Regions from separate parts of the Homo sapiens genome. Here regions 1 and 3 are each linked to region 2. Evidence: fine-mapped expression QTL. A gene starts in region 2. Each other region holds a variant in brackets. All regions are shown on one strand. Distances are from middle to middle. Region 1 overlaps TVP23C-CDRT4 (TVP23C-CDRT4 readthrough). Region 2 holds the start of TEKT3 (tektin 3). Region 3 overlaps TEKT3 (tektin 3).

The links. PIP is the estimated chance that this variant, and not a neighbour inherited with it, causes the effect.
Region 1: its variant is the best candidate, but not a certain one, in a credible set for the expression of TEKT3 in thyroid (GTEx, PIP 0.84).
Region 3: its variant is the best candidate, but not a certain one, in a credible set for the expression of TEKT3 in lung (TOPMed, PIP 0.55).

Annotation. Positions count from the first base shown.
Region 1 is chr17:15,532,723-15,537,074 of GRCh38, reverse strand. All of the region lies in intron 4 of TVP23C-CDRT4 (TVP23C-CDRT4 readthrough), which reads left to right. It overlaps TVP23C (trans-golgi network vesicle protein 23 homolog C), which reads left to right. Exons shown (of 6, transcript NM_001135036.2): 6 at 1-95. Among named protein-coding and RNA genes, the nearest start is that of TVP23C, 29 kb to the left of the region's middle. RefSeq lists an enhancer at 563-1,062. The variant C/T (reference allele first, on the strand shown) is at 2,250.
Region 2 is chr17:15,339,198-15,343,197 of GRCh38, reverse strand. It overlaps TEKT3 (tektin 3), which reads left to right and starts at 1,601. Exons shown (of 9, transcript NM_031898.3): 1 at 1,601-1,680; 2 at 3,137-3,170.
Region 3 is chr17:15,306,439-15,310,438 of GRCh38, reverse strand. TEKT3 (tektin 3) reads left to right here. Exons shown (of 9, transcript NM_031898.3): 8 at 1,621-1,775. It overlaps LOC124903932 (a long non-coding RNA gene), which reads right to left. Exons shown (of 3, transcript XR_007065634.1): 2 at 2,579-2,778. Among named protein-coding and RNA genes, the nearest start is that of TEKT3, 33 kb to the left of the region's middle. The variant C/A (reference allele first, on the strand shown) is at 2,104.

The sequences.
Region 1 (4,352 bases), 190 kb before region 2:
GATTATTTGTTTAATTGAATAAGTGTCTTATTGGAGTGATAGCTTTGAAGGTGCAAAACTTTATATTTGTATAAAATTCTACTATTTACAAGGCATTTGACATGTGTAATCTCATGTAACCCTCATGATAAATATGTAATACTTTAGATGATATAACTGAACTTCAGGTTAATGAGTGACTTTCCCAAGGAAAACAGATTGCAGGAATATCTGTAGGATATAAAACATGATATATTAGTATTTTTTAGAGAAAATATTTGCTCTAAATGCCCTTTCCTTTCTTAAAAATTAATAATTTGTTAAGAGCTTGTTTATTTTACTTAGCTGTTCTGTCTGGTGAGAATTGATACTGCACTAAAGACATTTTAAAATACAATCTGAAAGATCTAACCTAAATCTTTAGGGTTGAGAGTCTAACAAAGGATACATTGGTGTAGTTCTTTAGGTAACTGTGTTATTTGAACTGCATCCTAAACCAAGTAACAATGAATTTTAGAATATGCATGTGGTAGGAGCTACCCTGTATTCCCTAATATTCGTTTTTCTCCTTCTACAGATTTCCCACCTAATTAGCTAGGGAATGGCATCCTGGAATAAAGATAAAACTTTTCCTAGATTTTATTGCTGTATCTTGGTGTGGCCACACCACCAAGTTTGGGCCAATGGATACACTTCCAGGAAGTATCCTTAAAAGGAGGAGGCACGCCCATCCCTTCCCCCTTTTTCCTGAAAGGTAGACACAATAGCAGAAACTAGAGCAGCCATCTTGGACTATGTGATAAAGGCTTCGTTTTGTGAATGGCAGAGAAATGAGGTAGATACTGTCTGAATCCCATCTTGTGGGTATAGTAGCCCTGAACTACTTGTCTGAATTTTTTTTTTTGAAACAGAGTTTTTGCTCTTGTCACCCAGGCTGGAGTGCAGTGGTGTGATCTCGGATCATTGCAACCTCTGCCCTCTGGGTTCAAGTGATTCTCCTGCCTCAGCCTCCCTAGTAGCTGGGATTACCAGCCTGCCACTACACCTGGCTAATTTTTGTATTTTTAGTAGAGACGGGATTTCACCACAATGGCCAGGCTAGTCTCGAATTCCTGACCTTAGGTGATCCGCCCGCCTCAGCCTCCCAAAGTACTGAGATTACAGGCGTGAGCCATCGTATCTGGCGACCTGTTTGAACTTTTAATAAAAGTGAAGGGAGGAACTACCTTCTTCAAGTGTTAATGTTCTGGCTTCTCTGTTGCTCATAGCCTAACTGGATTCTTGTCGATACAGTGCACTTTGAGCATTATCCATGATTATTTCCATTTGAACTAACTTTCCATATTGTACTAACAACTCCAGTTGTTAGTACAGTATTAGAGATGTAATAATTTAGTAAATACATAGTTGTCCTTTATGTAGTAATTAAGTGAATATTGTAGTTGCTGCCGAGTTGCACTGTTCAGATGCTGTTGCTACGTAAAATTCCACTCCTAGAATTACTGGTGAAAAGTCATTTTATTATGCTCACAAATTGTGTGGGACAGGAATTTGGATGGAGCACAGTGATGGCTGGGGAAGGAGCCAGGGAGTGGCAGGGAGCTTTTCAGCTACTGGCCTGGAGGTTGACATTGGCTGTCAGCTGTGGCCTCAGCTAGGCTCTCGGTTGGAACACCTACACTGTGTAGTTTCTCCCTGTGGGCACATTTGACTTCTTCACAACCTGGCACTGGGTTCTAACAATGAGCCTTCCAAGAGAGCAAGAGAAGTGCATGGCATTTTAATGATTAGTCTTGGAATTCACATGATGTGTCTTCTGTCATACTTCATTGGATGAAGCAGTAACCAAGGTCCATCCAGCTTCTATAGAAGGGTACATAGAGCCCAGTACTTGATGAGAGGAGTGTTAAGATTACATTATAATAAGAAGTATGTGGGATGGGAGATAGTCTTTAGAAAATAAAATCTGTGACACTTTAATCATTTCATTAAGACTGAAGAAATTAGGAGAGACTGAGGATAAGTGGTTTTCCATTTTTTTTCCCTGGGTCAGCCTTGGATACAAGTGAATTGACTGAATGGTGCTAGTAAAATGGAAGTAAAATCACATTTTTGTTTTTTTATTTTGACATGGAGTTTCTCTCTTGTTGCCCAGGCTGGAGTGCAGTGCCATAATCTTGGCTCACTGCAACCTCCACCTCTCGGGTTCAAGTGATTCTCCTGCCTCAGTCTCCCAAGTAGCTGAGACTACAGGTGCCCACCACCACGCC[C/T]GGCTAATTTTGTATTTTTAGTAGATACAGGGTTTCTCTATGTTGGTCAGGCTAGTCTTGAACTCCCGACCTCAGGTGATCTGCCTGTCTTGGCCTCCCAAAGTGCTGGGATTACAGGTGTGAGCCACCACGCCTGGCCCTAGTAAAATCACATTCTAATTCTACATCCCCCAGAGTATGTATTCTTTGACCCAGACCTCTAAATAGGTAAGGGTGTGTGTGTGTGTGTGTGTGTGTGTGTGTGTGTAGAAGTGATGGCACATTAACTCCAACATATAGGTACTATGGGCCTTTTAAATCTATATAACTCTTAGAGCTTATTAAAGTTCCTTTATGTATTATCTCATGTGATTCTCCCCAAGAGGGAAGAATGACCATTATGTACCATGTAACCTCATGTTACAGGTAGGTAACTAATACTGAGAGAAGTAAAATAATTTATTGAAGGTTGCATGTAGTAGAGATAGTAATGCTCACTAAACGTTCCATTTGTTCTACATTTCTCAGCTTCCTTAATTAATTTGAGGCCATGTGGTTAACAATGGCCAATGAAATGTGAGTGAAAGTGAATAGAGATGCTAGGTGCCTGAAGAGCATAGGACAGTTTTAGACAACAAAGAATTGTCCTGTATCTCATGACTTCTTTGAACCTCGCTGAATAATTATGTACATAGAAATCCTGTTTATAATGAGAAAGGAAGAGCAACCCCTACAGCTGTCAGCTGGAAGCTGATTTAGCCCTAATGGCTAGGCTATTATATTCTGTTGAATATAAACAATGTTATATAACAACAACATCTGACAAGGCCACTCTGAGTGTGGTGGAGGAAGACAAAAATTAAGACACTCCATAGGCATGTTGGAACTTAGCAAGATTCTGTGTAAATCATAGAGCGACCAAACATTCTTGTCTCTTGGCTTACATGTGTGATATTTGCTCCATTACCCATTAGATCACTCTGTTCCTTCTTCCTCCTAGATTAAAAATTTCAATGTTTACACTCATTTAGAATTTCCCTTGCTTTCTGAAAGCACTTAATCCAGAGTAAAACCATGATTCATGGAGCCCTTCTTGAAATCACCCAACACAACCCCAAATCCTTTAAAAAGCCCTTCCCAGCACCCTCATACTGAGGCACCCCATGGTTCCCCATGGTGTGTGATCTCTCTTGTGTAAAAGTGTGTTGATAAACCCAACTCGATTCAACCGCAGATCTGTTCCTCATGATCTCTGACGGGTGGACGTTGACAATAATTTTTTGAGCTTAGATTATAACTCCATTTTATATTTTTGTTGTAGATCTGCAGTACTTGATTTGCTAAAAAATGCAATTACCAGTTAAGTGAGGGAAGGTTGTAGTCTTTGTTCAGTACGTAACCAAGAGTTTTCTATCATTTTAAAAACTATCACTAGTGGCAACATTGCTCATGGCATTTGAGTTCCAGGTCAAAACTACTGCAGTAGTCTGCATTTGTAGTGGGTACATTAATGGTAATTATATGTACATATGCAAGCATCTAATGATTGTGTCATCAGGAGTTTTGGCCATCTCCAGATTGAATTACACATTACCGTAAGTTGCTTCCTTTTATTTCTCTGTTACATTACAGTTAGATATTAAAGATACCTTTAATCATGATAGATGATTTAAAAATATGCCTCACGTAAGTTATATTGTTTGTGTTTTAGAATAATAAAACATGTTTAAAAATATTTCTGATAAAAAGTGGCTGTGGGCCTGAAGGGGCGAAAACCATTAGTCTACAGTCATTGATGAACAGTCTGTCCCTTAGGCCCTCTTAGTTGGAGCTGGAGAGTGTATAGATACGAACTTGAACTCTGGTGTTCTAATATTCTGTGTTGCTTACTGAAGGTAGATGCCATGTGCTTTGGAAACCAGCATGGACATTCTATGAAATTTGAGAAGAGAAGCAGTTTTCTCATTTAGATGGTCTATCATGGTTGGTAATGTCTAGTGTTCTAAGTGAATGTAGTAGATGCTGCTTATATTAATTTAAGAGAAATCCTATAGATGCTGCTTATATTAATTTAAGAGAAATCCTATATATCCCATTAAAAAAATCATAGAGAAACATTTCCAG
Region 2 (4,000 bases):
ACATTGAATGAATTTTGTCTTCAATTAGCAATGCTATTGGGCATCTAGATGTGTGCAAAGCACAAAGACTGCTCATCATCTTTAAAGAGTTTGTGGGCAATCAGATCTACTTTAGAACAGTTGCCAGTCTTTTGGCCCAAAGAACAAACATGGCATCATTTGCTGCATTGTCTACGGATTCTAGGCATCTGCAAAGCCCGTGCTGAATACTGAAAATACAAAATGCAGAACACTATGCATGAGAAAAAAGTAATAAAAAAAGACAGCTCAGAGTGAAATGTTTCTTAGGCCGAATGTAGAAAAAGTTGCTGATAAGGAACATAGTGGGAAAACTAGTCAGGATTTGCAGTGCCCTGGTGTCGGGTATGGGAGCCTTGTCTAGTCTTGTGTCTAGGCAAATGAGTAGCCTCTGAGCACTGGGTGTTTTCTGTGGTTTTCCTCTTTGGGGAAAATACTCTGGGCTCATCTCCACAGTTAGAGGGGTCGTGTTGCTTAATGTAAACACTTGAGGCAGCATTCTAACTTTTCTAGATTAGGTTCCCATGAGTTCGGTTGGCCTGAGTCAGCCTCTAATAAACTCGGGACACTGGCATAACCAAGAGTCTGAATTGGCAAAGCTGAGGACCAGCCCCCGACTTGAAGTCACTTCATTGAGGTCTCCTAGGGGCTGGGCAGCCTGCCTTATCCTGGCAAGTCCCTCCGCCTCGTCCTTGGGTGGAGTGCCACACAGTGATTCCCAGAAAAGCCAAAAATAATTAACTGAGGGCTTTATTTTCTTTAGCATTACTAGTTACCAAAGTAACTCGGTGAATTCTCTTGCTGCTCACACGGTTAGACTGCTGCCTCATGGAAAGATGCCTTGAAGTTTGACTGATTTGAGTTTTAGTGTTAGCTCTGCCACTGAGTCACATTGTCTAAGTCAATTAACTTCTCGAACTTCAGTTTCTTCATCTGTACAATATAAACCCCTCTTACAGGTTTGGAAAGAGGTTGCATGGATGAGCAATGATGTATGTATGTAAAAATGTGGGCCAGCACCTGGAAGAAACAGTACGGGCTGCTGTTTACGGAAATATTTGCTGAAGAGAGAGAGGGAAAGCCCAAACCATTTTCTTAGAGTGAGGAAGCAGGGAAGGAACACTAGATAATTCTGTCACAGGAGAAGCTCTGCTGGAGAGAAGAGAGGCTGGTCAGGAAAGGTGGGGGCTTGTCAACACCTAGGCAGGTGTTAGGGTTCCAGGCAGCCCTGATGTGCCTTAGAATCGGCCAAGTTCTTCGCAGCTGGAAGAGTTCCGAATCAGGCTTCACAGGAGAGGTCGGGAAATCACCGAGGCCTCTCCCTTGGGCTACTCTTCACCCCTTTCACCTCCCAAACCAAGGAGGTCTCCCGGAGGGCGGGGAGCCTCGGTTACTAAGCGTGAGCGCGTCCATAGTAACCGCCGCCCGACGGGTTTCCCTCCTGGCCTGACAGCTCCCGCCTCTCCTATAACTGGCCAGTCAGCTCCGGCGAGCCGGCCGGGGCGGCCGCTGAGTGGCCCTCAGGCGCTGCTATCGTCACAGATAGGAAAGGCGGGGCCAGGGCCAGACTGGTCTGGGCCCCAGTCGAGGGCTGCAGGTGGTAGGCTGCGACCCCTTCCTCCCACAGCCCCTTCCCGCCCCTCGCCGGGCATCCGCCGACAGGTGAGTGGTCTCGCTGACTCTAGCCTGCCTCTAGGACTACCCCAAAGGATCCCCCTTCGCCAACCAGGACTCCAACTTCTCGCCTCAGGATCGCGGGAGGTCGCGGACACCCTGCAATTCCTCCCCGCGATCTTCACTTTTCCTTCCAAATAAAAACCGTACAAATCCACAGGCACCTCCCACCCAGACGTTGGTTTCCTCGTAATTTACCTTTCTGATGCTTTTCAAGGGTTTTCAAGGGATGCCCAGGGAAGGGGCATCCGAACCCCCGACACTGTGCTAATTCGTTTAATTTCTTAATTCTAATAATTACCCGTTAGCAGCGCTGTGCCTTTCCACTGCGGTGCTGGCCGCCCCGCACGCTGTTCCTCGTCCCCCTCTGCTTCAATAGCCGAGCCTTCAGATCTGCAGCCACGGGGAGGAGAGTTCAATCACCTGGTCTTGTAGACCGAGCTCCTTAAATTCAGATCAAAGCTGTTCTCTCACCGCCCAAAGTCGTTTCTGTTTAGCTTGGCTGCAAAGCTTTCGCTTGTGTTTGGGCAGTTTAGACCAAACCCCTTTATGTTTTCTCCTGGATGTATATAGTATTGTAGAGAAATAAACATCCTGGAAATGGGTAAAATTATTTGTTTGATTATTGTGAAAAAAATATACAGTTTTACTAACAGGCGAAAATGTTTTGAGGTAACTGACAAAATATTCTACTTTTTTCTTCTTTAAAATAAAATACTTCACACAATAAGTAGAGTGAACCCAGGGGTGAATCCATGTACCCAGTCCAAACTTAAACCAACAAAAAATCGATTACAGGCACAATTAAGGTCTGTTATGTAACCCTTGGAAATCCCATTCCCCTCTCTCCTTACCTATCCCTATTAACCAACAGAATTTAGCATTTACTTATATTCTGCATATTTTTATACTTTTACTACTCATATGTTTATCCTAAACCAATGTATACTTTTTTTTTGAGACGGAGTCTCGCTCTTGTCGCCCAGGCTGGAGTGCAATGGCATGATCTCAGCTCACCGGAACCTCCGCCTCCCAGATTCAAGCGATTCTCCTGCCTCAGCCCCCTGAGTAGCTGGGATTACAGGTGCCTGCCACCACAACTGGCCAATTTTTTTTTTTTTTTTTTGTATTTTTAGTAGAGAGGGGGTTTCACCAAGTTGGCCAGGCTGGTCTCGAACTCCTGACCTCGTGATCCTCCCAAAGTGCTGGGATTACAGGCATGAGGACCGCGCCCGGCCTACTGTTACTTTTTAAGTTGATAGAATGGTTATGCTGTACGTGTTGCAGGTCATTCATTTGAACTGTTGTGTGGTGATTCTTGCATGAATTTACCACATATTATGTATGCATCCTCCTGTTGATGGACTTTTAGTTTGCTCCCTTTAAAAATACTAGAAAGGAATTCTTGTACATTCTAATTGTAAACATATTTGCATTTCTCTAGGTACATACCAAGAAATTGAATTGCTGAGTCACAGGTAATTTGCCATTTCAACTTTACTGGATACCACCATCTAGCTCTCCAAAGTGTAATAATTTATATACCATCGATGAATAGAGTTCCTTAACCAAACTTTTTTTTTTGAAGAGATGAAGTTTTCCTGTATTCTTATGTAATATATGCATAAAGAGAAATTAAACATTGATGTCTGATATGATTTCTTCTACTTCTGGTATTTGTTAGTGTATTGGCAGCGCTGTTTTATTTCCGCTCCTATTTAGAACTGTAATTAAGTGGCTACAAAGGAACTAAAGGGGTTTGTATGTGAGCCCTTCAAGCCTATGCTTGCCCCTGATCTAAGGCAGGGTGTGGGGCAAGTCATGTAAACTTGTGTCTTCTGCAGAAAATGGTCTGTAGATTTTTGTACTTTAAAATATTTATGATCTTCCAGTCTTGCTTAAATATGCTAATAAAATGTTTACCCAGTATGAAGCCAACTTTTGGATAGCAAATGGAGCTTTCCGGTTCTTAAAATCTCTGTGTGATTGATTCTATATTTAGTATGTTAATATTTATGGAAGACTATTGTAGCATTTTTTTCAGTATGTAAATAACAGTTGACTGTAAATTAAGTGCACCTAGTCAAACATTGTATTTGACTTTGTAGCCCATGTCTCATTTCTTAAAATTCTGTTTGGGCACATGTCTTAGTTTTCTGCTGCTATAACAGAATACCAGAGACTGGGTGATTTATAAAGGCGGAGATTTATTGGGCTCACAGTTCTGGAGGCTAGGAAGTCCAAGATCCAGGGGCTACATCTGATGGGGGTCTTCTTGCTACATCATAATATGGCAGAAGGACAAGTG
Region 3 (4,000 bases), 33 kb after region 2:
GACCTCATTTAACTTAATCACCCCCACAGAGACACTATCTCCAAATATGGTCACCTTCCAAGGCACTGGCGATTCGTACTTCAACATAGGAATTTTGGGGGAAGAGGCACTATTCAGCCCTAACAGGTACACTCAAGGTATTGTGCTAGGCACTCGGGGATGTACATACATCTCACGTCTTAGAGACAAGACATGCACACAGAAAACGGGAATTTGCATCAGAAAGGTGCAGAAAGAACTTGGAAACACAGATGAAATGTGAACACAGTTTACAAGAAGGAGCAGTTGTTTCCATTGGCAAGAGATCAAGATGGTTTCATGGAGCACATAGTATCTGAAGAAGGCCTTAGTGATAGAAACAGTGAAATGATTTTTAGCTTGGGAGAGAGGTCGAAGCTCAAGTGACAGATTGAAGAGTGCCTGGATGACACAAATGCTAAATCTGTGATTGCACGAGGTCTCTGTAGTGTAGAAAGGATATTGCAGAGACATCACCCAAGGACAAAGCCTTGCACTGGAAGGGAATGAGGAGTAGTTGGAAAGGAGGGAGTTGGAACAACACTTGGCAAGAGAAAACAAGATGAGGGTCTTAAGGAGAGGGAGGTGTCAGAGAGGCCTCGATGTCAGCTTTGAAACTGAAGTTTCATGACAGCAGCTAGGGCCAGAGACAGAATCCAGGGGCCACTGAGAGACTGGGTGGGTGGGAAGTGAAGGCAGTGGGCACAGCCATGGTTGAATACATTTGGCAGAGGACTCAGTTGGGACTGGATGGGAGAGTGGTGGTAAAAACATAGGGTTTCCAAAAAAAAGATGATTCTTGGTTGTGTCTCCAGGCCATGGAAGGGAACCCAGGAAGAGGGACAGTAATGGGGAGGATGTGGAGCTACAGGAGTGCAGAGATCAAGATGCGTGGAGAAGGGAGGCTTTTCAGAGCATAGGACAGGGACTCTCTTTACAGAGAAAGAGGAGGGAGAACCAAAGGGGGATCCATGTTTACGCAATTTGGGGTGGTGGCCTCTTTAAGAAAAAACGAATACAAAATCAGGAATACAAAACTGCCAGTACTCCTCTATTGCAAGTGAGGTACCTGAAACTGAAGCCTGATTCTCTGCAAGGGAAATCCTCTGTGAGCAGGAAAGCAATGCTCAAGTTGGTAGGAAGAGAAAGTGGGAAGAGATGCACAGATATATGGATGTGAGGAGGGAGATCAGGGCCACTCAAAGCCTCACTTTTATCAGAACACAGAGGTGTGCTGGTCAGTAATTAACAACGGCCATTGGGGGCAGCTTGCAGGGAGCCCCTAATTTGGAGCATTTGCCAATTTCTGTAGTTGAAATACTCCCACCCTGGCTGATTTCCAGCTACCAAAATGAGGTTGCCAAGCCTAGGGTTGGGGAGAGAGGCGCCGCCCACTCTCCAGAGCAGGTGCATGCCAGCTCCAGTGAGACACGTGGGTTCCCTGGGGCAGGGCTGGAAAGGATAGACGGTCTTGGTGAAGCAACTTCCTCATCAGCGAGGTCAAGGCACGTGCTGGACATGGAGTGGACAGGCAAGAGGTGGGAGGCGGGTTGTTGAAGGGACCACACCAAAGCCTCAGGCAGTTGCTTCTCTTTGTCACAGACCCTGCAGGAGATTTTCCAGACTGAAATGACCATAGAATCCATCAAGAAGGCCATCAAGGACAAGACTGCCTTCCTGAAGGTGGCTCAGACCAGACTGGATGAGCGCACAAGACGGCCGAACATTGAGTTGTGCCGAGACATGGCTCAGCTACGGTAAGGTGGGAGGGGAAGGCTCGGGGCTCGCTCGGAGGGCCACCAGACCAACTGTGGTGCCTGGCTCTTTAGAAAGCTGCTTTCTGCCCATACGCAGCATGTAGGAGCCTTCTGTGAGAATGGTAGTAATGGGGAGATGTTGAATGCAGAAGAGTTTCAGTGTGGGATGATGAAACAGTCCTGCAGATGGATGGCGGTGACGGTTGCACCAACAGTGTGAATGTACTTAATGCCACTGATCTGTACACTTAAGATTGGTTAAAGTTTTATGTTATGTATATTTTACCACAAATCCTTAAAAAAGGAAAGGACATCAACGCTACACACA[C/A]AAAAAGTGCTATTAAGCCTTTAACTCATTCGGGGAGGCCAGTGTGGTGTTCGGGTTCTTTTGCATGTTCTTGGAGTCTTCGGAGTTTCCAGAACTCCTGTCTTATAAGCAGCAGTTTGTGACTTTCTGTGTATTTCTCAGCATGGGGAACGCGACAGAAAAGGGACTTTCAGTACCAATTCCACTGACTCCTATCTACTCATTTGCTGTCTTTGTGACTGAGGATCTCATTTAAGTTTATTTCAATGTGTTTCATTCTCAGTAGAAATCAAAGCCAGCTGGTCTTCATCGAGCACAGCTCCTATATATACACAGCAGGAGGAATCTGACCCCACAGTTTATCTACTAAACACTACATGAATTTTATTATTATTTTCACTTTGAAGATTCATTTTGGGATGGACTTGTAATGAACTGGCCAAGATTCCCTCCCTACCCCCGCCACAATCCGGCTTCATTTCCAATTTCCCAATACCTGTGAGTCTGCCTTTTCTTTCTGGGTTTCATCATTGCTATTCTTAGGTCCTAAGATGCTCCATGCAGAAGTAAATCAACTTGATAGCAACTGGAGGAGCCAAGGGCAGTGCGTGAACTCCAGAAGCCTTTCTGGTGCAGTGGGGAGATGCCACTCGCTCTGCTTCCACGATAAAATTCTCTTATCTTGAAGGATTGATCCTAAGGATAAAATAAAGAAATAAGTGGTGGTTTGAGACAGTGGATTTCCTGAAATGGAAGGAAGGGGGATCTTGTGAGGCCAACATTGATGATGATGATAATAATAGTAAAGATAATGATGGCGATAATCAATGCAATGATAATAATAGCTGCTACCATCTCTTAACCTGACTCGATGCTGGGCACTGCCCTAAGCACTTTATACTATCTCATTCATTACCTTCATATTACAAGTGAGGAAACTGAGGCAGGAGTGGGTGAGTGGCTTGGCCCAGGCCACATTTAGTGGTGAGAGAGCTGCAGTTTGAGTCTTTGCCTGTCTCACCCCAGAGTTCTATTCCACCAAGCCATTTGCTTCTCTTTCTCCTGTGTTTTACGTTGTGTAATGCATTTACCATCCCCCTGTCAGGTACCTGATCTCATTTGAGAAGAGTTGGCAAAGTAAATGCTGCATGCTCATCTCCCTCTCACACAGAGGATGAAACTGAAGGTCACAGAGGAGATCATTATGATGAAACACCTTACGTGTATAGCACGCATGTTGTCTGTGTTGAGTGCCATGAAGCGTGCTTTAGGTTGTACGCAAATGATCTTCATTTCCAGGATGAGTTGTATTTCTCCTGGTGGAGCTGTTATCTAGGCCATAGCCACAGAAGAGATCACTCAGGCTGCATGTTTTTCAAAGTGGGTTCCATAGAACCCCTCTTCATGCACAGCTCATTATTTAGGATAAGCAGCTCTCCACTCCAGAGACTACATGGGCCCCTAGACAGCCAACTGGAGGCACCTCTCTGCTTTAGAAGAACCCAGCAGTGAGTGCACACCCACTTGGCCTATTAGAGTTAGATCACCAGTTTTGACTTTATGTAAATGTTATTAGGAGAAGCTGAACTGATGTTTCGTTCTCCAAAAATCTCTGCAGAGTCATCAAAAGTGGAGATGGGAACAAATAAATTGTTTATACTGCCGTTAGACAGACACAGGGTTGCTTTTAAAATGAGTTTTGGGTAGTGGTCTAATAGGACTTCGGAATTATCAAACAATGAGGCATTCACAGCTTCTCCTGAGGAGCTGAATGATTTTTACTCTTTTTTTTTTTTTTCCTATTCCTGGCTAAACAGAATTTGCTTTTCTTTCACTTCCTGCCGACTTCATGGTATGTCTATTTCCTCTGCTCCTTTACTGACTTTTGAACAAAACCTACTTTTGTTTCTGTCAAGTT